3 separate regions of the Homo sapiens genome follow, and all the other regions are linked to region 2. Evidence: fine-mapped expression QTL. A gene starts in region 2. Each other region holds a variant in brackets. All regions are shown on one strand. Distances are from middle to middle.

What was found.
Region 1: its variant is fine-mapped to the expression of GRIK4 in thyroid (GTEx, PIP above 0.99).
Region 3: its variant is fine-mapped to the expression of GRIK4 in whole blood (INTERVAL, PIP 0.97).

What each region holds. Positions count from the first base shown.
Region 1 is chr11:120,593,477-120,601,741 of GRCh38, reverse strand. The region is part of intron 1 of GRIK4 (glutamate ionotropic receptor kainate type subunit 4); the gene reads right to left. Among named protein-coding and RNA genes, the nearest start is that of GRIK4, 86 kb to the right of the region's middle. The variant G/TG (reference allele first, on the strand shown) is at 4,538.
Region 2 is chr11:120,507,541-120,515,805 of GRCh38, reverse strand. GRIK4 (glutamate ionotropic receptor kainate type subunit 4) reads right to left here and starts at 4,058. Exons shown (of 21, transcript NM_014619.5): 1 at 3,919-4,058. RefSeq lists silencers at 3,988-4,187, 4,368-4,447.
Region 3 is chr11:120,953,604-120,961,603 of GRCh38, reverse strand. GRIK4 (glutamate ionotropic receptor kainate type subunit 4) reads right to left here. Exons shown (of 21, transcript NM_014619.5): 16 at 4,651-4,824; 17 at 530-695. It overlaps LOC101929208 (a long non-coding RNA gene), which reads left to right and starts at 3,565. Exons shown (of 3, transcript NR_133004.1): 1 at 3,565-3,646. RefSeq lists a silencer at 2,858-3,079 and an enhancer at 5,604-6,104. The variant C/T (reference allele first, on the strand shown) is at 3,979.

The sequences.
Region 1 (8,265 bases), 86 kb before region 2:
CACACGTTGAGCCTACTTATTCCTTATTTATTTTGCTCATCTCAGCCCCTTTACTTCTGGGAGTGATTCCAACTTAAAAAAAAAAAAAAAAAAACCACACACACAACAACAACAGAACCAAAAAAAAACCAGTCAATTATGAGACAAGCTGCTTGCAAATGAGAAAAAGCCTCCCCTCCTCAATTTTGCGCCCCCCCACACCCCGCCTTAAACAGAGGGACCTGATCTTTAAACAAACAGCCACTAATGTGCTATGTGAATTGAATCATCAAGTCACTTGCCCTGTGTAGACCTTCCTGGACAAGGTTCTTTTGGGGTTTGTTTTTGTTTTCGTTTGAGATGGAGTCTCGCTCTGTTGCCCAGGCTGGAGTGCAGTGGCGCAATCTCGGCTCACTGCAACCGCCACCTCCCGAGTTCCAGTGATGCTCCTGCCTCAGCCTCCCCAGTAGCTGGGATTACAGGCGTGCACCACAAAGCCTGGCTAATTTTTGTATTTTTACTAGAGATGAGGTTTCACCATATTGGCCAGGCTGGTCTCAAACTCCTGACCTCAAGTGATCTACCTGCCTCGGCCTCCCAAAGTGCTGGGATTACAGACGTGAGCCACCACACCCAGCCCCTGGACCAAGTTCTTCTTGTCCAAAATGTGGGTGCTGTAATAGTTCTCATGAGTTTTGCTTGTTTGTTTGTGACAAGGTCTCACTCTGTCACCAGGCTAGAGTGCAGTGGCACGATCCGGCTCACTACAGCTTCCATCTCCCCAGGCTCAAGTGATCCTCCCACTCAGCCTCCTGAATAGCTGGAACTACAGGCGCATGCCACCACACCTTTTTGTATTTTTTGTAGGGATGGGATCTCAGTATGTTGCCCAGGCTGGTCTCAAACTCCTGGCCTCAAGTGATTTGCCTGCCTCAGCCTCCCAAAGTGCTAGGATTACAGGCATGAGCCACCATGCCCAGCCTCTCATGAGTTCTTAATCTTTTTGAAGGTCACTGACCTCTTTGAGAATCAGAACAAAGCTACAGATTTACCCCTTCCAATTTCACTTTCCATGCATATTTGTGATGCTGCCTGTAATGCCAGGGACTCCCAGAACCCCTGAAGATCTTCCTGGTGGGGAGAGGGTCCCCAGACCCCTGCCTCTGCACTCCTGGCTAGGATCTCCTCCAGTCCTGACTGTGGGAGGAAAACAAAGACCAGCATCCCTCCTCAGCCCTCTGTTCAAAGAGCAGAACAAAAACCAGGTGGGCTTTGCTGGGAGGCCCAGAGAGCAGGAACCCCATTTCCCTGAGTTAGCCTCAGGCACTGCCTCTGAAAGGCTGCCATTCAGGCAGCCAAAGCTGATTTGACATTTGTTTAATTCGCAGGAAAACTCTAGTTTTCTTTTTTTTTAAGACAGAGGGGGGAAAAACTCCCATAAAACCTCTTACTCTCTTGCCCTAATGGGACCCATAAAGGCTGACAGTGCACCAGGAATCAGCCACGCTGAGAAGCCGGAAGCCTGGTGGGTGGAGGTACCCTCCCGCTGTGGGAGGAGCAGCTTTAAGAGTCTCATTTTTCTGCAGGCCTTAGGGGCTCCCACATTGAAGGTCTCACCTTTCCCTTTCCCCAAACACACCTGAATCAGGGCTGCCAGCACTACTCTCCCTGGAACCTTCCACCCAAGGGCTTCGGCCACCTGCAGAGTGGGCGGATGGCAAGGTCGCTTCTAGAGCTTTTCTGATGCGCCAGGCCCCATGCTAGGTGCTCATGCCAGCATGAGAAAGCGTCAAACCTAAAACCAGCCTCTAATGTTCAAACATACTCTGGCTGCAAGAGACACCAAAAGCCTTTCTTTCACCTTTATGTCACGGGCTCTGGGGCAGGGGTTCCCTTGTGCTGAGTTTGACTTGCTCCTTGCTCGGGTGAGTCACCCAAGAAGGCTGAGCTTGGGGACAAGGCCCAAGGTGTTTGTAGCTCCTACTGCCTTTTCTCTCCCTGCTGAAAGGAGAGTTTCAGGGCAACCTGGAACTGAGGCCCACACCCCAGGAATACCCAAAGCTGGCAGCCTTGAAACTGGTTTTCACAAACCTCTGATCAAAGTACTTTCTGCACTGAAAACGGGGCACTATATCCCTGGAAGCACAAGAGGGAGGCTAGGGGGCTGAGAATACAGTAGCAGAGATGGAGCTGGCAAGACATCTAGAGACTCCATCACTGACTCATTCTTCTGAACCGTTCCTTCCTTCAAAGGGCCTAAAACCCTCTGGTCTTCATCTCCCAGATAACGGCGGAAACTCTGTTAAGTCCAGGTGGAGAAACCAGGGCATGCTGTGAGCCTGAGAAGAGGGCAGGCATGGGGCACCAATGTCCCCTCCTCCATCCCTGGAGCCTCAAGCCCAGAACAGGGACCTTCCCCACCACCAACTCCAAACATGCACTCCAGGTTCATCTGCAGCAGCTGGTCCAGGGAAATATTAATAACAATCATGAAAGGTAATGACTAGTTGTGAGAACAAGGATCAATTCAAAAGGGAAGTTGTGTTTTCACATTCTCTGCGTGTTTAAAAAACAGCAACACACGCATCAAACAAACAAAATGAGGCATCTGTCTGGCACAGCCTCGTGATATCCCGTCCAGATGTGGAAGCTCAGTAAGCCCCCTCTCCACACCCTTAGTTTACAGGACCAGGAGCTGTGAAATGGCCTTTGAAGAGTGGGTGTTACCCTTTGCAGTAACGCAGAATGACCACAAAGCCTTCCTCGTTCCTGCAGGCACACCCCTTCAAATGGGGCTTCTTGGCCCCTCCCATCAAGAGAAGGAGTCCATTATCCATCCCTTGAGTCTGGACTTGGACATATGACTTCCTTTGGCCAACCGGACATTAACAGACATGAAATAACAGAGGATGTAAAAAGTACTTAGGCATCAGGCTTCCCTCTTCTGCAAGATAGACAGGGTCCAAGCCAGCTCAGTTACTTTCAAAGAGGAAGAATGGATATCTACATCTACATGGACATGGAGAATGTGTGAGGAAGAGGTCAGGCCTGGGCGAGCCTCTTGGAAGATAAGAGGCCATGTGGTCCTTGCCACAGCTGATACTGAGGGAGGCCATCCCAGTTCCTGCAGCCCCAGACAACCTGGCCAAGACCAAAGGAGCCATCTAGCCAAACACAGAGCCATCAATAATAGTCAAGTTCATTGTCTTGAGCCACTAAGTTTTGGGGAGATTTGTCATATGGTGGGAGTTAACCACTATACCGTGCCATTCTCTGTCAAGGAAAAGAACTGGTTGGCTCCTCAGGGGGTGGGCAGGTTCCACCACGCAGGCCAGGAAATGTCCCTGGAGCCGATGGAGAAAGACCACAAACTCTGCACTGGAGGTTGAATTCAAACCACCGTTCTGCTACCTGCTATCCAGATGACCTTGGGCAAGACACTAACTCTGTGAGCCTCAGTTTCCTCATCTGCACAAGGGGCACAGCAAGCCGTTTCATAACGCTGCTGTGAGAAAGAAATGAGAGAATGGATGGAAAAAGTCGGATGCACAGCAAGGGCTCAACAGATGCTTGTGTCTCTTTTTTAATCAGTCAAATTCGATGGTCAAGGCATCTTCCACCTTGATTCCAGAAGAGTGGAAAGAACAGAAGGGGCCCAGACCAGCTCCAACTGCGAGGCCAAGGGAGCGCAGGAGGGGAAGTCTGTTGTTAAAACAGCCGCTTGGCTCTGTCGCTGAGGCACTTAGTTTTTAATCTCTCTGAGGAAAGAGACGTTTCATCCAACATTCACCGCATCAGCAACTCTCTAAGTAAAATGCAGAAAACATGACGTCTTTATTCATTCCATCAAGCAGTAATTAGGGCTCGGAACAGGAGTCTTCAACGGCAGGCACTCCCGCTCCTGAAAGTCAGGCAGGTTTCTAATTGGGCTGGAGAACAACTTTGGGGAGATCTCACAGAGGTCGCTAAAAGGGACTCATCCACAGTCACAATTTCCCTTTCGCTTTCAGATGCTTAGAGAAAAATTCGAATGCTGCACTGTATTAGGAAATCAGACAAAGCGGGGGGCTGCACTGAACAGGCAGCACGCATGGCCCACCACCTCAGGACCCCCACGGATCCCTGAATGCAAACACTCTGGCAAAGCGCACGGCTGAGGCAGCCAAGTAAGACTGAGAGGCAATTTGCTTTTTGTTCTTTAAAAAGAATCAGCTAGAGAAATTGCCTTTATGTGACACTGAGACTCTGCTGCCTGCCACGGGGCTCAGCTGGGGGCGCCCGGGGCTCGGTCAGAGAACAGGTCAGATCTTCACCTGTTGGGTAGTCAGCCAAGGAGGGAGAGGAAGGAGAGGGAACTGGCAACTGCCCAGCTCCCACCGTGTGCAGCCCCAAGAGGGGTGCTTTGCATACATGATCTCACTGCATCCTCCCCAGAACCCTCTGCGGGAAACATCATCTCCTCATCATGGTGGGAAGGCACTTGCCCCGTCACCCAGCAGGTAAGGAGCAGAACCAGATTGGAACCCAGGTGGAGAGGGAGCGGCCCCGCAAGGTGAGT[G/TG]GAGCTGCCTCTGGCATCCAGGGGCCCAAGAACAAAGCTACCTGGGGCTGCCCTGGCATGAAGCTGTCATGTTCCCAGCTCTGGGAGCAGCCGTTGACTAAGCCAGGGGTCCTGAGGCCCCCAGTGCTTACATATATAGAAGCCCCAAGTGAGGGGAGAACTGGATGGAACACAAATCTCAGCCAGGCGCGGTGGCTCACACCTGTAATCTCAGCACTTTGGGAGGCCGAGGCGGATGGATCACTTGATGTCAGGAGTTCAAGACTAGCCTGGCCAACATGGTAAAACCCTGTCTCTACTAAAAATACAAAAATTAGCTGGGTGTGGTGGCGGGCACCTGTAATCCCAGCCACTCGGCAGGCTGAGGCAGGAGAATCACTTGAACCCAGGAGGCGGAGGTTGCAGTGAGCCAATATGGCGCCACTGCACTTCAGCCTGGGCGACAAAGTGACACTCTGTCTAAAAAAAAAAACAAAAACAAGTCTAACTGCTGAAGCCCCTTCTCAGACCCTCTGCCCTCATTTTCCCTACACATACTCTCCCTTACTTCTCCAGTGTGGCCCCTTCTCCATATGCTTTATAGAGAGACAGAGGCTTAGGCATAGAGACTTACATATAGACTTCAACGTAGACACATAGACATAAAGGCATAGACATACACACCTAGACACAGACATCCATCCTTCCCCTTTGGAAATAATTTTGCTGGCTTGAACCCCACTCTGTCCTTCTCCAGTCTCTCTCTGAAGCGCTCCCTAACACCCCATCTTCTACTTCCCTGGAAGATTTCATTGTTCCCTCATCGGTGTTCCCACAGCCTCTTTTCCCACACTCATCACGTTGCATTTTTTTTACTGGTTAATAGACCTGTCTCCCTTTCTAGAATGTAAGAATGGAGACAATTTCTTTTTCATCTTTATAACCTCAACACTTCACACAATGTGTGACACACAGTGGGCATTCAAAAATATTAATCAAAGGAACTAATTCAACAAATACTTTTTGAGCACCTACTACAGGCTGCATGCTAGGGATACGGTGACTTAAAAAAGCCATCCCGGTCGGGCACAGTGGCCCGTGCCTGTAATCCCAGCACTCTGGGAGGCCGAGACGGGCGGATTATTGAGGTCAAGAGTTCGAGATCAGCCTGGCCAACATGATGAAACACCGTCTCTACTAAAAATACAAAAATTAGCTGACCGTGGTGGCGCACGCCTGTAATCCCAGCTACTCAGGAGGGTGAGGCACAAGAATCGCTTGAACCCGGGAGGTGGAAGTTGCAGTGAGCTGAGATCACGCCACTGCACTCCAGCCCAGGCAACAGAGCAAGACTCCATCTCGAAAAATAGAAATAATAAATACAAAAGCAATCAGGGGCCTACAGTGCAGACTGGGAGGTGCTCTGCCTGCTGAGAGCAGTGTCCCCAGGGCACATGGTCAGCAGAGGGATGCTTCCAGGAAGAAGTGGAAGCTCAGCTGAGACCTACAGAAGAGTGGGAGGTGTCTGGGTGAAGGAGGAGAGCTGTTCCAGCAAACTGAGATGCATATGCAAAGACTAAAAAGTGACAGAGACTAAAGAACATTCTAGAAACCACCATTCCATGTGGCTAAAGTAGAAACTGTGAGAGGTCATCAAGCAGCAGAGGATAAGGTCAGGAAGATGAGCACCACTCCTCCATTCACGCCCTCAGTCAGTAAACAGGTGGTGAGCACCTTCCCTCTGCCATGCACCTTGTAAGGTGAGCAAAATACATACAGTCTCTGCCTTTATGGAACTTACAGTCTAGAGGGGAAGAAAAAAAGTATACCGAAAAAATAATTTCAAAATGTGCTAGGGGCTGTGGATGAAACTAACAAGAAGCAGACATAAAGAAAATAATACAGCAGAGAAACCTTTATGTGAAAACAATCTGAAACTTAAAGGATGTGTGAAAAGCAGGACGAAGAGTGCTCCAAACAGAGGGAATGGCGTGTGCACATCTCCCGAGGCAGGAGAGGGCACAGCACGACCACGGGCTGCAAGGCCAGGGAGAGTGGAACACAGCGAGCGGGAGGAAAGATACTGGTTAGGATGTGCTCAGCCACATGCAACAGACGGCCTTCCTAAATGTGGCTGGAACCATAAAGGCATTCATTATCCCTTTGAAGAGGAGGATGGCAACTTTGTGGTTGATCCTGAAACTCATCTGTGGCTTTAGAGGCCTGCTCCTTCCATCTGCCTTCCTCGGTATGTGGACAGTGTCTCCCTCGCTGGGGGTGGCTCCTCACCCTCCGACACCCCTAAAGCAGGAAGGACGCATGCAGGCATCTCCTCTTCACGAGTCACTCTCGTATGAGGGCAGCCCATCTTTCCCACAGCCACCAGCAGACATTCTCTTCAGTCCCACCACTTACCCCAATCAGTGGCAATGGAGTCATGGTACGGCTATGAGTGAATTGGATTAACCGTGGCCCAACTGCAGTGAATCACAGGAGGGCACACCTTCCCTGAAAATACCACCACCTCTTTCATGGAAGAAAAGTACCCTATATCTGAACAAAATCAGGCTTCTGCTGACATGGAAGATGGGAGGAAACAGCTGTTAGGAAGGCAACTGATCAAGAAGACAGTGCAAGAGGAGGCTGGAGAATTAGATGGGCCAGATCATACCCTATACGGCATTACAAGGGCCTTATAAGGCATGGCAAAGAGTTACGATTTTATTTATTTATTTATTATTTATTTATTTAGACAGGGTTGTGCTCTGCTGCCCAGGCTGAAGTGCAACGGTGCAAACACAGCTCACTGCAGCCTCAACCTCCCAGGCTCAGGCGATCCTCCCACCTCAGCCTCCTGAGTAGCTGGGACAACAGGTAAATGCCACTGGCTAATTTTTGTATATATATTTTTTAAGACACGGGGTCTCACCATGTTGCCCAAGCTGGTCTTCAACTCCTAGGTTCAAGCAATCTGCCGGCCTTGGCCTCCCAAAATACTGGGATTACAGGCATGAGCCACTGCGCCCAGCAGGATTTTATTCTAAGGGTAATGAATAGCTACTGAAAGGTTTGAAGCACAAGAGTAGCATGAAACAATTTAAATGATGTATTTGAAATGCATAGTTTTTAAAATGCTGTGCTGTGTGAAGAACAAGGAACAAGAGAAGTGGAAGGAGAAAAACCAATTAGGAGGCTACTGTCTTAGGTCAGAGGAGAGATGGTGGTGGCCTGGACTGAAGGGTGGCAGGGCAAGTGGAGAGAGAGAAGGGTATAAATTTGAGGCACCTGCTGGAGGTAAATTGGCAGGACTTGGTGGGGTATGGGATGTGGAGAGTGAGAGAACGGAGAGATCAGGAATGACTCCCATTCTTTTGGTCTTGTAAACTGGTGGACAATTGTGCCATTTACTGAGATGGGGAAAGAGGTAGAAACAGATTTGGGAAGAGGAATAAAGTGGTTTTCCATGTTTAGGATATATGGAGGATATTCAAATGAAAAAGTCAAGTAGATAGATAGATGGAACTGCTAGAACAGCACTCAGGAGAGAAAGTTGGAGGTCATCACTGTATAGATGGTATTGAAAGTGTGGCAATAGGTGAGTTCACTCAGAGAGAATATACAGTTAGAGAAGTGGGGGGCAAGGCTTGGGACATCCGACATTTAGACAGGAGTAAAGGGGGAGTCAACAGAAAGGGATACGAGAAAGACAGACCTGAGATGGGGGAAGCAGGAGGAATGGAGTGTTGAGA
Region 2 (8,265 bases):
TTTTTTGTTCATACTGGATTTACTAAATGTAAGGCATACCCTATTTTATGTAACAGAACGTTATAATCAAGCAACAACTATATCTTATGTCCTTACTATGAAGAGGGCCGATTTACAGGATGTTGAAGAACAGCCTCGCTCTGCTGGGAGTCAGAGAATGTGAAAAGGTGTCAGGCAAAGGCCTTGCTCCTCCAGGAATCTGCCCTCTGGGTGGGGAGACAAACGGACAGACGATTACCAATACCAGGTAGGAGCAGGGGGCTCAGCCAGCCCATACAGAGGGAGAGCAGAAGGCGGCCACTCAGAGAATGTGCCCTCCATACCCATGCAGGTGCCCTTCACACTGGACGAGTCACACTCCCACTCACATTCCATGCTGCTAACCCTCTGAAGCAGGTGAGATTTATCCCCATTTTACAGGTGAGGCCAGTGAGGCTCAGAGTCCCCATTTTACAGGTGAGGGCAGTGAGGCTCAGAGAGGTGAGGCAACTTGTCCGAGGTCATGCAGGGAGTGATGTGAGGACAGGAACCCAGGTCTGCCTGATACTTGGTAGCTGGAACTGGTTCCTCTTCCAGCAGCACCTTGAAGGCTGGGCAATATATGGATGGGAGGAAAAGAGGAGGAAATGCAAAGGGCCAGGGTGAGGACACACAGTGCCAGGGCTGGGTGGCCAGGGGAGGGGGGACAAGATCATGCCAGACACCACGTTGTGACATAAAGTTGGGGTCAGCGTGCAGAGGGCCTTCACCTGCAAGGCATCTTGGAAGGCACTGCCACTGACGGCTGCTGAGACAGGGTCCCCTGTGAGAAGCGTTACCCTCTGTAAGAAGACAGGCACAGCGGCAGGATGGCTGGAAACTGAGGCTGGAGGCCCAACAAGGAAGCTTTCAGGACCGTAACTCAGGGTGAACAGCCAAAGGCCCAAGTAGGGACCACGGCAGTGGGAGAGCAAAGGTCGGAGTGGACACTCGAAGTGCCCAGAAGAACTGAGTGGGCTGAGGCCTAAGGCACCAGAGAGAGGGAAGGAGGGTGCCCCAGGCACCCCGGCTGCATGCCTGGGGGAACCCAGCCGTTCTTTCCACAAGGAGGAGGCAAGAGGCAGTGCCCACTTGGGGTAGGGGGTGGTTGGTTGGGTCTAGGGAGTGGCGGGACACCCAGGCAGCCAGTCTAAGGCTGAGGAGACTACAGAGCAAAGACTCCACCAGGCCTGGGGTGGGGGTGAAAACGGTGAGCCATCACTGGAGAGGGCGAAGGGGATGAACTGAGGAACAGGCAGGACCAAGGGTGGGCTTTCTGAGAACCAAACAGCTGAGACCTTAAAAAGCAACAGCAACGAGCCCAACAGCACTGGACTGAGCGTCCAGGGGCCTGGGACCCAGCTGTGGAGCCTTGGATGAGGCATCCAGCCTCTCTGAGCCTCAGTTTCTGTTGGGTCATGAATGCCTCCTTATAAGGCTGTCTGTAAGGAGCGATCAGATGCTTGCAGGGCTGTAGTAGAGATCAAATGAAGTAATTGTTCTGAGAGGCATCTGGAATGCTGCAGAACCCCATACACACATAAGGGATTAGTACTATGCAGAAGCACCAAGAGATGCATCCTTCCCACACACGCTTGGCGCTGCCCACCCTCGCCAGCCACACAAAGGCCAGCTTCCGCCTCGCTGCTTCTCTTGCCTTCTGAGCAGTCTCTCCCCCAACCCAGGGCCGGTCCCCCTGTCCTCCCTTCCATCTCTGGATGGCTGAGAACCACCTCAGAAGCAGCTGAGCTCCTCTCTCCTGGATGCCCTGACTCCCTGCAGCTGGGACTTTCTCCTAGAGTCTCTGCCTCTCTCCCGGTACTAAAGTTCCCTCTCCATCCTAAGGGAAAACCAAAGTGGAAATCAGACCACGAAGCCGACCCAGGCTCTCGGAAGAATTTTCATTGCTGGGGAAGACAGCAGCCACCGATCAAGATGCCCAGGTAGGGGGATGGGAAAAACACAGAAAACCAAGATCCCCTCTCAACCTCCCCTCCCGAGCATCCACCTCTTCCCCACCCGGAGGGACCAGTGCTGCCTCTGGGTTTCAGGTGGCAGGTCCAGAGGAGGACAGAGGGGTGGAGCTGGTGAGGCAGGCGGGAGGCTGGTGGGCAAGCCCGGGCCACAAGGAATGAACAAAATATGGAAAATTAAACAAACCCAGACACTGTAATGTGTGCATATTAGATTAACTCTCCGAAGGGTCGTGACCTTGAGGAACACATCTGGCCAGTGAGAAAAATAATAAACCTGATTAATGATGAAGCCTGAGCTGCAGCTTCAGCAAATAAAGCCAGCATGATGACGCCCAGTGGAATTCCAGGGGCTGCCATCCCTGGTGGGACCGGAACACAGTGGACCTCGACAAGCCCCTCGCCCCTGACCACGCGAGCACAGACAGTCAGGGAGTCAGGCAGGACCGGATTTGTCTCTCAGATGCCCACTACCAACCCAGGCGGCCTCTCTCCCCGGAGATACCACGCCCGCAGTTTCCCGGTGCTCCTAGAAGTGTCACTACCAACCAGGTGACCCATAGGGAGTGAAAGTGAAGGTAGTTCTTTGTTCCTGGCAGGGCTCAGTCCTCCTGACCAGCCCTCAGACCTCTTGGCCTGGTCTTGACAGCTGCCCACTGCCTGGCAAAAGGGCCCAGCTGTGCTCAGAGCTCCCCTCCTCTTCCCAGACAACCCAGACCCTTGGGAGACATGCCCAGGAGAGCCACTGGAGGGAGGCAGGGAGGTGGCACCGCGTGGCATCACCAGACAACAGCACCAAGAGGAAGATGGCAGCATCAAGTACAGATGCCAAGAGCCACGCAGCCCAAGGTCCAGCCCGGGAGTGGCTCGGCCCGCATTGCCCCACCACTGCCAGGCAGACGGGCCAGAGGCGCCCGGGGCCCAGCCCCCTCGGCCGCCTCCTCCACCACCCCAAGGCCCTCAGCCAACTCTCCCCAGGCTCCAACTCCTCCCCTCACTTTGCTCAGCTCAAGGGAGCCAGGGAAAGAGACACAGGTGCTCTCAGTGCCTTGAACCCCCTGTCCCAGCTGTCGCCTGCACGCCCTCCACCCCAGCCAGGTCGGAGCGCACAGCTCTGCCAGTCCTCACTGAAGAGAATCTAAATCAGCTCCCCTCCCCCTCCGCCCCAGCCCCCTCCCCCATCACGCGCCCATTGCAGGTCTCTAGAGTTTCTCCCTCACTTCCCACTCGGATGAACTAGGGTGGGATGGGTGGGAGCCCCATTCTCCCCGGGAAAGAGGATCATTTCTGATAGGACGCTGGTTCCCCCAAGCAAGGCGGTGTGCAGGGTGGGGGGGTGTGGTGGTGGCCCGAGTCCAGTGCAGGGGCAGGGGGCAGTCGAGGCAGATGGCAGTGAGGAAAGGGGGAGGGGGCTTGGTGGGATGCCAGGCTGAGCCGGGATGGGGGGCTGCAGCCGGGGAACAGAGGCGCTGGGAGAAGCGGAGGGTGACGAGGTGTAGGGGAGACGCGCCAGGCTGGGAAGGGGCTGTCATCCCTGCAGGGGACAGAGGCAGGGCTGGGAGTTGCACGGGGAGGGGGAGGACCAGAGCGGGAGGACCGCGAGCCCGGGGAAGGGATGCGGAGGGAGGGAGACGGACCGGGGTGAAGACTGGAGGAACTACGGGAGCAGAGCGGTGGGGGGTTCGGCGGCGAATCTGGAGACGCAGGGACCGAAGTGCCAGGGACCGGGCTGGCGGGAGGCGGGAGCGGGGAGGAGGGCGCGGGGGCGGGGGCCGGGGCAGGGGTGCGGGGCCGCGGCCCCCGAGGGCAGGAGCGGCGGAGACGTCAGAAGTCGGGGTGCGGGAAGGGCCAGCGCGGAGGGGACTCGGGGGCGCGGGGGCAGCGCAGGGAGCGGGCCGGGGGCGCCGCGGGGGGCCGCTGCCCTTACCTGGTCGGCTCCGCACTCCGGGGGCTGAGCCGGGGGCCGGGCGCTGCCGGGCCGGCCGCGGGGCTGCTGTTGGCCGTTTTTCCTCTTCCGCAGCAGCCGTGGCGGCTCCAGCCCGATCCGCCCGCAGCTGAAGGCAGTCTGTGTCCGGCTGCGAGCGAGCCCGGCGCGGGGAGCGCGGGAGGAGCGCAGCGAGGCGCGGGGCGCCGCCCGGCGGGCAGCTGGGGAACTGCTGCGGCCCCGCGCACGGCCGGCCGGGGGGGCGCCCCTTCGGGGCCGGGCCGGAGCCCCGCGGGCAGCTGCACGCGCCCCCCAGCGCCCCTCGGAGCGTCGCCCGGGAGCCCAGGCGCGGGGGCGGCGGGGGCGGCGGGAACGGCGGGGGCTGCTGCGGGCAGGGCGGGCGCGGGTCCGCGCGGCCGGGGGCAAACTTGCGGCTGCCCGGGGGCCCGGGGCCGAGCGAGAGGCGCCCGGCTGGGGAGCGGCGCCCGGCAGAGGCTAGGGGCGCGCGGCCAAGCGGGCTCTGCGAGGTACGGACCTCAGGTGGGGAACCCGGCGCAGCCCGCACACTCCACCGCCCTGCGCAAAGGGGCAGCCCGCCCCGGCCCCGAGGAGTTATTAGCCCGGCGGCTTCAGCGAGCAAGGGGCGCCCCCTGGTGGCATTCGGGAAACAGCGCGGGGGACGAGCGTGCCCCGTTAGAAGAGACTGCGGCCTCAGTGGTGCGGAAGATGGAGAGGTGGAGGTTTCATGGGACGAGACAAGAGCACCTTGTTCAGGAGACTGAAGAGCAACAGCTTGCATGGAGTCATTCCAGAGCACTGTTGTATACATACCAACATCTTGGGAGGATCTCATGTTACGCATGAAGATCCTGAGGCTAGGAGAGGTGAAGGGACCAGGCCAAGAACACACGGGGAGCAAGTGGCAGGACCCAGGAGGCAACCCCGCTTTCTGACGCGCGGTTCATTTCAGTACACCGTGTGGTTCATCCTAATACAACAGAGTTGCCCTTAGGAGGAGGCTGGGTGAAGAGGGAGTCCTGGGGGAATAGGAGGGAGGGCAAGGGACACGTGACCCCCTCAAACCTATTAGCTCCCTCTTATCCAACCCGCAGAGTCTCTGTCTTGGGCAGACCACCAAACTGATCACACCGGCCCTCTCACCTTCAATGGCCTGTATCCCCACACCCAACCACCAGCACTCCCACAATCTCATTAAGCTCTCTGTGAAGGGTTTGTTCACAGACGTCCTTGGTCAGGTCTCACGCATGAGGCATACTATCGGGACTATAGACTGTTCTGGACGTTGCATTCCCCGGGGAGGGCTGGCTGGCTAGCCTGGGCGCGTACTGGGCCTCCTGCTTCAGGAGTCGTGCCTATCCCTCCCCCAGCTCCACACACTGGCTGGATGAATGCCATATGCGAACAGGGCTCCATTCCTCCAGCCAGACATTATTTAGCACCTACTGTTTGCCAAGACTATACCGCTTACACAAGTGTGATTCCCAATAATCAACTTTGCAAGGTAGGTGTTGAGGTGACACTAGTCCCATTTTACAGAGGATGTTAAACCTGTTAAGGTTTAAGAGCACCTGTAAGCCAGTGACACAAAACTAATTTCTAATTCCAACTCTATTCCCCCACTCTGGAACCCCCTCTCTTGTGCAAAATGGACGGAACAGCAGCATAAGCCTAGCAGAAAGTGTACGGGGCTGGGAGGAGGGAGAGGCATCCCTGTGATCCCAGCAAGCGATTTCACTTCCCTGGACTTCAGTTCCCATAACTCTAAAAGTGAGGGAAGCAGACTAGATGATCTCTCAAGCCGCGCAAACTCTGAAATGCCAAGCATGGATCCCTGGCCCCTTTCACGGGAAGAATGCAAGATCAGCGAGACCAGAGAGGCTTATTAAGTGTTTGGAAAGAAAAATACTATATAAGTGAAATGCTTCATCATATTCTTTTGCCTGGTGATCTCATCCTATTAACCAGGGAAGCGGGGAGGAGCTTTTGGCAGGTCAGAGAGATTGCTGATGGCTCTGGAGATAGTCTTGGCTGTGGCCTCCTGAGGGCCCTGGTTTCTCCCCTTCTTGCAAGAATGGTTCTGACTTTCTTTTCCTTTCTTAAGGCCTCTGCCCCTAGAAGCAGGGAGTCCCTACCAGTCACAGGGTGGACAACAATGTCAGCGAAGTCTGCCGGTACAGAAGTCTGCTGTTAGCCTCAGCCTGGTTGCCCCCACCCACTCTCCTGTCTCCCCTTGCTGCAAGATGTTGAGTTCTTTGGGATACTTACTACTTGCTCTCCACCTTTTTTACTACTGAAAAAATTCAATTCCAGGCAAGCTGACTTCTCAAGCTCAGCTCCAGGGGTGGGAAGGTCAGTCCAGATCTTTTTTGGAAGCCACAGGGGGAGAATGTCAGAGGGCCACGAGGCTGGCCCCGCTGATCTACTCTGAGGCTGCTGCCTTGAATGAAAAAACAGAAGGGTTGGGAAATGGGGCTCCCACCTCTAGAACCTCTCATCTGAAACATCCCTCACAGCCAGCTGCTATGCTGTGCAGGACGGATAGGATTCATTGTGCTTGGGCGCCATGGTGGTCGGAGCGCACAGGAAGGAGTTTGTTCTCTTGGATTTATCTTTAATTTCTTCCATCTATCTGCCTCTGGTATATCCACTAAGAAGAATATTTGATCTTAAATGTACCTGCCATGTCTTTTCCGAAGGTCCCTTTGAAGGTTCATCACACATTCATAATGATCCCTCTGCATAAATGGGGCCAGCTGAGGCACACGGTGAGCAGGTGACTTGTTGTCACCTTGCTGAGTGGCACATATCATATCATGTCACCATGTCTTAGAAACTATTGCAGCGGCCCTCTAGCTCATCTCCCTGCCTTTAAATTGGCTCCCTCCAATATGTCTACAAATGGCTGCCAGAGTGATGTCTCTAAAACAAGCTTCACCACTTTACACCCTTGCTGAAAACCCCTTCATGACCTCATATTGAGTCCAAAACTTTTTTTTTTTTAAGACGGAGTCACTCCTCTGTCACCAGGCTGGAGTGGAGTACAGTGGCGGAATCTCGGCTCACTGCAACCTCTGCCTCCCGGGTTCAAGCGATTCTCCTGCCTCAGCCTCCTGAGTATCTGGGACTACAGGCACCCGCCACCACGCCCGGCTAACCTTTGTATTTTTAGTAGAGATGGGGTTTCACCATGTTGGCCAGGCTGGTCTCCAACTCTTGACCTCGTGATCTGCCCGCCTCGGCCTCCCAAAGTGCTGGGATTACAGGCGTGCACCACCGCACCCAGCCTCGAGTCCAAAACTTCTTAGCACAGCATACAAGTTCCCTGCTTACTTCCCCACCTCACCCATCATCCATTTCTGTCCATCTCACCTTCAGTCAGTACCAAGCAGCACTGAGTTCTCTGCTCATCCCATTTCATACCTCTGTGCCTTTAACACACTGAATTCTGCCCAGAGTCCCCACCCTACCTCCCACATACACACTGATACACAAGTTCCTATTAACCGCTCAGAATTCTGTTTGGGAACCTCTCCTACTAGAAGTTTATCATACCTGGCTATCTAGTCCCTTCCCAACAGAAGTAATTACTCCCTTCTCGGGATCTCTCTTGTGCTTGTTAGAGTTTATGGTCACTTACTTGTTTCACGTCTGCTCTCACTAATAGACTGTGAGCTTGTTCTCCTGGATTTATATTTTAGCTTCTCCCTTCTTTGTATTTGCCTCAGGTATATCCGCAAATCAGATATTTGATCTTAAATTTACCTACCATTTCTTTTCCAAAGGTCCCTTGAAGGTTCATCTCAAGTTCATAATTAGACTATAGGCTTTTTAAAAAATCTCTGGCCGGGCACAGTGGCTCACACCTGTAATCTCAGCACTTTGGGAGGCCGAGGCGGGTGGATCACCTGAGGTCAGAGTTTGAGACCAGCCTGGCCAACATGGAGAAACCCTGTCTCTACTAAAAATACAAACTTATCCGGGCGTGGTGGCATGGGACCTGTAGTCCCAGCTACTCAGGAGGCCGAGGCAGGAGAATCACTTGAACTGGGGAGGCAGAGGTTGCTGAGATCGTGCCATTGCACTCCAGCCTGGGCAACAAGAATGAAACTCCAGCTCAAAAAAAAAAAAAAAAAAATCTATTAACCACACAGTGCTTGGCATAGGAGATTCTTAGTAAATGTGTTGAATGGATAAACCAATAGAGAGAAGGGGTTAATGAGGTCTACAGTTCTGGCAAATCGGATTTGCTCCTGTCATTTGTCCAGATGAGTCAGATGAAATCCTAACTGGCAAATATGAAACTGTGCCCTTGGTAAGCTTAAAGTCTTT
Region 3 (8,000 bases), 450 kb before region 2:
AGGGTCCCTATCTGATACCTATCAAGTCTGGAATCAGTGAAGCCAGTTCGTCTTAAGCTGGTGTTCCTCAAACTTCAGTCATTCATGTATGAATCTTGCTCTGTCTAAATACTACCTATACGATTTAAATCACTTTAAAAATGTAAATGTATGCATTAACCCCATTCTATGCAGTAATATAAATAAAACAACAGGTTTGATTCACTGCATATATATACTTTTTTTCTAATGGCCATTAATATAAACATGAAACTATGGCAACTAAAAAACAGTTCCACCACATCAGACCTAAAATCATCTCAAGTACCACCACTCTGGCACCGGCTGATATTAACGCAAAGTTCTTTTGGGACCTCATTCCAGGAGTATTTTGTGGAGCAGCAGATAAATGAGCCCCATGTGGACCTCCAAACTATATGTTCAAAAGAGATAATGAGATGCGGAGAGATGTTTTTATCTCCAGCAGAGAAACATCTCAACTTTATTCTGCCCAATTCCCGATGCTGGTGAGCAACCAAATGGGGTTTACTTGGAAGAAGGTCATGCTGGAGCCTCCGTGAATTGTGCCATATTCAATGGCGGTCTGGTCAGCCAGGTCATCCACTGACTCAATGGGCACATCCATGCGCTGCACGGTCAGGAAGGCTGCCAGGTTGGCCGTGTAGGATGAGATGATGATCAGCGTGAATGCCCACCTATGTAGGAAAAGACGAGGAAGTCATCATTGCCCGGGCACTCCCTGGAGTCTTGGCCCCTGACCCCAGTCCTGCTGTGACATGGGAGAGACCAGGCATCTTTCTTATGAAAGAGCTTTCAGCTTAGTGGGGGAAGAGAAAGGAGGCAGGGCATATGATGTCAACAGAAATGAATCGCGTTTGTGAGCACTGCCTGGAAGAAGACAGTTGATTTGTTTTTCTTATTTCCTAAAGGAGATGATTATTGGGTTATTATTCAAAAGAGGTGTAGTCCATGCACATGAGACAGTTTTGGAGACTGTGAGAAATGAGCTAGTGAATGAGCTGCGGGTGCCAGCTCCAAGGGCTCTGTTCAGAGCTAGAGCAGGAGGGCTTCCTCACCTCCTCGTGCTGAAGCCAACCTTCAAATGTGCATCGCCAGGCAGTGAGCAGCTACCACGAGCTACATCCACTATCTCACTTAATCCCTAGAGCTCACGGAAGCAAAATTCTTATCCCAATTTTACAGGTGAGGAAATTGAGGCTCAGAGAAGTGAAGCAACCTGCCAAGTAACACAGTGATACATTCTTTGTTTTTTTTTGAGACGGAGTCTTGCTCTGTTGCCAGGCTGGAGTGCAGTGGCACAATCTCTGCTCTCTGCAACCTCCACCTCGTGGATTCAAGTGATTCTCCTGCCTCGGCCTCCTGAGTAGCTGAAACTATAGGCATGCACCACCATGCCCAGCAAATTTTTGTATTCTTAGTAGAGACGGGGTTTCACTGTGTTGGCCAGGATGGTCTCTATCTCTTGACCTTGTGATCCACCCGCCTTGGCCTCCCAAAGTGCTGGGATTACAGGCGTGAGCCACCACACCTGGCCGATAAATTCTTTTTTTTTTGGAGACAGGGTCTTGCTCTGTCATCCAGGCTGGAATGCAGTGGCTTAATCAGGGCTCAATGCAACCTAGAACTCCCGGGCTCAAGTGGTCTTCCTGCCTCAGCCTCCCCAGGTACTGGGATTATAGGTGTGAGCCCCTGTGCCAGCTGATAAATTTGTATTTTAAAACCAGTTCTGTAAATTGTAACAACAGAACATCTTTAATAAAGACTACCTGGCGAAAAGCACTTTTGAACTGCTGAAAGGCTGGAATTAGAAAATACTCTTACAATGGTCATGCTATTTCAAATTAGAAGATTGTTTTACTGAGTAGACAGAACTCATTTGAAATTAGAATAATTTTGCAGCTCAGGCAGCATATATGCTAAGTCCATTAAAAACTGTGTGTTCATTTTAGTAGGTTAAACAAGCCTTCTCCCATCTGGTCAACAGTATGGATCTACATCCCAATCCCAAGGGGCTCAAAGATAGATCTAAGCACAGTTTGGGATGGAGAATCACAAATTCTGAATCAGTGGAGCCTGAGTTCATGGGGCTTTATCCATCATAGAGACACTGACGATGAATGCATAGTGATTAACACACAGAACTTGGCAACTTGCCACTGCTGTGTAGATTTTCAAGAGCAGCAGGTCCCATTGCCCCTTTTGCCATTGTGACCAAGAACACTTGCTGGCTGCCTCCCCAGGAGTGAAGCAACAGGGGCATCCTCTGACTCAGTGGGCATGTCTACATGGCAGACCACCATGAGCGAGCTGGGTTTTGGTTCTGGCTGTGTTCCACTGTGAGAATGTGGGGGAAAACCACTCGCCTTCTCTGAGCTCATTTACTTGTCTAATAAATATATGGGGATAATCATGCCTGCTCTGCCTATTGCTGGAGAGTTGTGAGATAAAATGAAGTAATATGTCATGAGTGATCAGCAATCTGTAAAGGACTAGAGGGATGTGAGATATAGAGAAATGTATAGAGAGACCATCAGACTGAATATGGGATGAAAATCACCTGGCTGCCTCCTTCTGCCTTCCCTATCTGTGACCTGTAAGTAGCAGGTATCCCTCCATGCCCAAGGTCTGCTCTCCCTGCTCCTGCCTCAGCTCTTCTGCCCTATTGGAAGGTGCTCTCATGACCATCCCTAAACAGAGACCTGGGGTGGGCAGTCCCCAGGAGGAAGCCAGCACTCTGCAGCTGCTTAGCTGTGGTGGTGTGTGCTGGGGGTTAATGAGCCCTAGGTGTGGACATGACTTCAGAGTTGGCTACACTCTGGCTACACACCAGGTGGCTATTTAGGCCATTGGTCACAAGGAAACTGGTCAGAGGGCACAAGCGGCTCAGTGCAAACCCATCGGCTCTGCTGAGAAAGGGAATGATGCCCGCTTCCGGAGGGCTCAGTGGAGCCTCGCTCCTGTGTCAAAGGGCATTTTCAGTTGTCAAACTGGCATTCTCTCCAGCGACATGGTGTTTTCTATCACGTGCTCTGGGTGAGGAGGTCGAGGTAGGCCACGATGGCCCTGTCTTCTGACCTCCCACTCCTCCATGGAACGGACCAAACCGAGGCCCTGATTTAAGAACTAGGAACTGTTAGTGTGCTGGGAGAGAAGCGCAGTGACCACCTGGAGTCGGGGCTGGCACAGGCCTGTCACGGCGGCTTGCATTCGCGCTGAGCCCCTTCTCACACAGCTCTGGAACAGTGACCAAGCCACCTGGGGCCAGCCATTTAAAGCAGCGCTGAGTCCTCCCCTCAGGGCAGGGCAACCTGCAGGATGGCTGGGTCCTGGAGGAGGGATTTCCTGGGGTAAGGGTAGAGCTGACAAGCGGATAAAGTGGGCAATGGGGTTCTAGCTGCATCCATCTGTGGGAGCAGGCACTCTCCAGAAGGAAAAGCCCCAGGGAGAAGGAGATCGACATCCCCCGATGCTCCTCTCCCAGGGCTTCTGCCCAGGTTCCCGGATGTTGTGGGTGGGACTTCCGTGACTCTCCTTGCTGAGATCGTCCATCCCTCTTCCTGGAGACCTGAGCTCCTGTTCTCCATGGTGATCCATTCAGTGACTTCTCCAAACTATCTGGTAACAGGCAAGCATCTCGCCCAGGTTTAAATCGTGCTACATTTGTTGTTTATCAGGGATAATGGAAACCCCAGACAGGAAGGCATGGCTATCTCAGCTGCGTTTTCACCTTCCTAACAGCCCAGTGGCTCCTCCAGTAATTCTGTCCAGACCACCCACTCTGGGCACCAGTACTCAAGGGTGGAAACATCACCTTTCCTTTTCCTTTGGCTAAACAGGCTGAGAAGGAAGGGAGAGAACCAAGGTCGTAAGTCCTGTATGCTATGACAGCCAAACCCACAGCAGATTTTTAAGAGAGGATCAAAAAGTTGTGTTCTGCAAACTTGCCTCTCTAGGCTA[C/T]ACACACACACACACACACACACACACACACACATTTGTTTTGTCTTTCCTTTGCCCCCATAATGGTCTAATAACAATGATCAGTCCATATGTTTATGTAGCACTTTCAAGTTTTCAAAGAGCTTTCCCACACATTGAATCATTTGCTCAACTCTGAACGACAAGAGTTGCGTTTTCCCACACCTGCTGAGGTGAACAGGCCAGCAAGCCCCCAGAGCCAGAGGCAGAGACACAAAGCCTCAGAAGGCTGGTAGAGGGGATGTGATGTAGCAGCCAGGCTGGCTTCCTCCTGCAGGGACTTCCTGCCAGCAGGCTTATACTTGCATAAATCTGCATATGCCTTCTCAAACCTCAGGTCATTTTCAGGTCAGGAAGTTACCATTGCTTTGCTGAAATTCATCAAGGCTGTTTTGTCACCTCCTCTCCCTTCCTCCCTTGGCTCCCCTCTGCATCCAGACCCCAGAGAGTAAGGGGAAGGGGACCAGATGGCACAGAGCAGGCCCCATCCATTGCCCCAAGCTTCTGAGCTGGCAGAAAGCACTCGGCTTCCTGCGTGGGTCTGCTGTAAGAGGCAGAGGCTCTGGGGCTCTAGAAGCTAGAGCCGGCTTATCAGAGGGCCCCTTTTGTGTCCCCACCCCACCTGGCCTGGTTCACCTCTGCCTGGGGCCTTACCAGACGCCACTGACACAGCGGGTGGATAAGGCGCGAGGGGCGATGGTGGAGCCTTGCTGCATGAACCCCCCGACCGGAAACCAGAGGCTGTTGCCCAGGGAGTACTGGTTCACCAGGAGGTTGCACCGGCCCTGGGCACATGGGTGTGGGCTGTACCACTCGTAGGGCGTCAACCTGTGGGAGAAAAGGAACATACACTAGTGCCACAGAGGCGGGGTGTGAAGGGACACAGGCAGGCTCTCCTGGCTGGTCTCACCTCTGAGACCGGCCTGTGGCCTTGGGCAAGCCACTTCCCTTTGCTGGACTTGGAGTTTCGCAACCAAAAAAAAAATAAAATAAAATAAGTGGGTTGAACTGGGTTGATGGTTCTCAAACTTTTTTTTAATCAAAGAGACATTTTTACCCCCAATAAATTCTGATGTGGAACTCCAAAATACAGAATAGAGGATGGCCAGGTGCGGTGGCTCATGCCTGTAATCCCAGCACTTTGGGAGGCCGAGGCGGGTGGATTGCTTGAGTCCAGGGATTCGAGACCAGCCTGGGCAACACAGCGAAAACCCGTCTCTACTAAAAAATACAAAAAAATTAGCCAGGTATGGTGGTGTGTGCCTGTAATCCTAGCTACTCAAGAGGATGAGGTGGGAGAATCACTTGAGTCCGGGAGGTAAAGGCTGCAGTGAGCCAAGATCCCACCACTGTACTCCAGCCTGGACAAACAGAGTGAGACCCTGTCTCAAAAAAAAAAAAAAAGATTAAGTGGAGCCCCTGAGGCTAGGAGTGTCAAGAGGTGGACAGCCTGGGAAGCCGCTTGTTCTGTCACTGCCAGTGACAGGGTGATGAGAGAGATATTAGTGTCCCTTAGAACCACGGTTTGAAGACCCTCAGCCTAGAGCAGTGGCCCTCCAGCCTTAGCCTACCTCAGAACCACCAAGCCGGTGTGCTGACACAGATGGCTGGGCCCAGCCTCAATGCTTCTGCACTGGTAAGTCTGGGGTGAGGCCTAAGAATTCCCAAGTTTCCAGATGATGCTGGTGCCACCGGGCCAGTGTCCATACTGAGAGCCACTGGCCTCGATGGTGTCTAAAGCCAGGCTCTCCCTGTCTGTGTTTCAGACCTCCCCAGAGCCTTTCAAAAAAAAAAAAAGAATGCTGCTGCTTGAGTTCCACTCCCAAAGATTCTGGTTTCATTGGCTCAGGTGGGGCCTGGACATCAGTGTTTGTTTAAAGCTCCCCAGTGAGTGTAATGCACGCATGGGGCTGAGAAGGGCTGCTCTAAGCTCTGTGCCTTGGGGTGAGGTGGGGACACTCCCCTGCTTTCCCTCTCAGCCTCACCACTGGCGTCTCTCTGAATGGCCCCTCTGATGCCCAGAATGCCTGCTCTTCCCCTGCCCGCCAGGGAGATGCTTGCAGCCCCGGCCCATCTTGTACGCAAAGCCTTCCAGCTCTGACGAGAGAAACTGTATGCACAGGTGTGCACCCCCAGGAGGGCGGGGTGCTGTGTGCTCGGTGTTATCTTCACACTGCTCTTTCCCGTCCTGCACTCGGCCTGATGTGCACTTAGTGTTCCCACTGTCGCTGCCTCCCGTTTCCATCCGCGCCTCTCCTTCCTGAGTACAACACAAACGTCTCAGCATTGGTCCTTTGACCTGTGAGATGTGCTCTGTCCCTCTGTGTGGGTCCCGAGGAGCTGGCTGGCACTCTGGTGCCCCACTTTGTTGGCTCCCAAGCCTACGGACCATTGGTGGGATCTGCAGAACTTCAAAGATACAGATTCTCAGGCCCTTCCCCTAGAGATTCTGAGCTCATGGGACCTGGGAATTCAAATGTCTAAAAGCTCCCTACAGGACTCTGAAGATCAGCTCTCTTGGGAATGGCTACCTAAGAGCTGTTGTTTTCAGACATTTTTTTTTCCCTGTAAAATCTTACCCGAAGTACAATATATAAGAAATAAAAGTAGAGCTGGTCTGGATGAGGAGGAGTTGGGGACCCAGGGCTCTGGCTGCCCAGCCTCTTGTCATTCCACCCCCAAAGGCTCTGGTTGCTCCCAGGAGCCTTTGCAGTCCATAGAACCATGTTTGAAAATCACTACCTTAAGACAGAATACCCTAGACTCCAGTATTGTTTGTGTGTGTGTGTGTGTGTGTGTGTGTGTGTGTGTGTGTGTGTGTGTGTAGTGAGAGAGAGAGGCCGTATGGTTAGCCCTTTAGCACATTTTCTGTTAACCTTTCTGTGATGCTAGATGCTGGAGGGGGTGTGTTTGGATGTGGAGGGGAGGGAGGAGGGGCAGCGTAACACCCCAGGGCTGGTTGAAAGCTCTAGGCTGCTGTGGGTATGCTGAAGCAGGCTTGTATGTATCTGCTCTCCAAACCCCAAGACTTTTCAGGGCCCTTGAGGTGACCTGAGTGTTGTGGCATGCCACACGCAAGGGCTCACATCCAAGGGGCAAGTGTGAATTACAGAGCAGTGGCACCAGGCTCACGGAGACAGCCTCCTAACATGGCAGCAGTGTGGCAAAGTGGAGAGGGGAGGTGTCAGACAGCGTGCTAGCTCCCCATCTCGCAGGCCGTCACTGACAGCAGATACTCAACAGTGGCCATGCCTACAGGCCCGAGAGGGGTTGGTGGTGCCCAAGCAGCAAACTCTGCCACGTTTGAAAATGACCAGGTTGTCAGCAAGGCCTGTCTTTTTTTGGCTGCATCTTGTGGGCCCCAAAGACCTTCCTGATCTTGGGGACCTTGGTCTCCACTAGAAGAGGTATGTGCAGACAGGTTGATGCAACCCTTCTCTGGCAGTCTGGGAAGTGCCCTCAGGGGTTAGGTAGCCCGTGGTTCCCTAGGGCTTACCATGCGGCAGCTCCATCCCCAAGTGCCCCCATCAATCCAGTGAATGAACGTGCCCTAGGGGAAGACCCCACCCACCCCACAGAGATGGGATGTGCACTCTAACACTGTCTGCCCTCCCACTGTGGCCTAGAGGCAAAGGTAACAACTGAAGAGACACCTGCAAACCAGAGCCACGGACAGATTCCAGAAGCTCCTCCTGAGTAGTTCTCTGCTCCCACATAACAGCCCTTTGTGAGCCTCCACTGCAGTAAGTGGAGGGTTAGCAGCACTAGGGACCTGAGTGAGTGGCCTGGGAGCCACCAGGGCTCATCCCACTTCTGGAGGGTTAAGCTGGCTCTCCTGCAGCTCAGGCTGGCCCAACAGCCTTGGCCTGGAGCGAAACTACCTTTGCTGTGCACAGTCTTGGGAGGCCACAGCCTCAGGCTGCTCCTCAGGTTTTTCCAAAGGGCCAGGGCAGCCCCTGGTTTCCTGGGGATAGGGCAGGGCTTATTCTCCCCCCTCCCTGGTC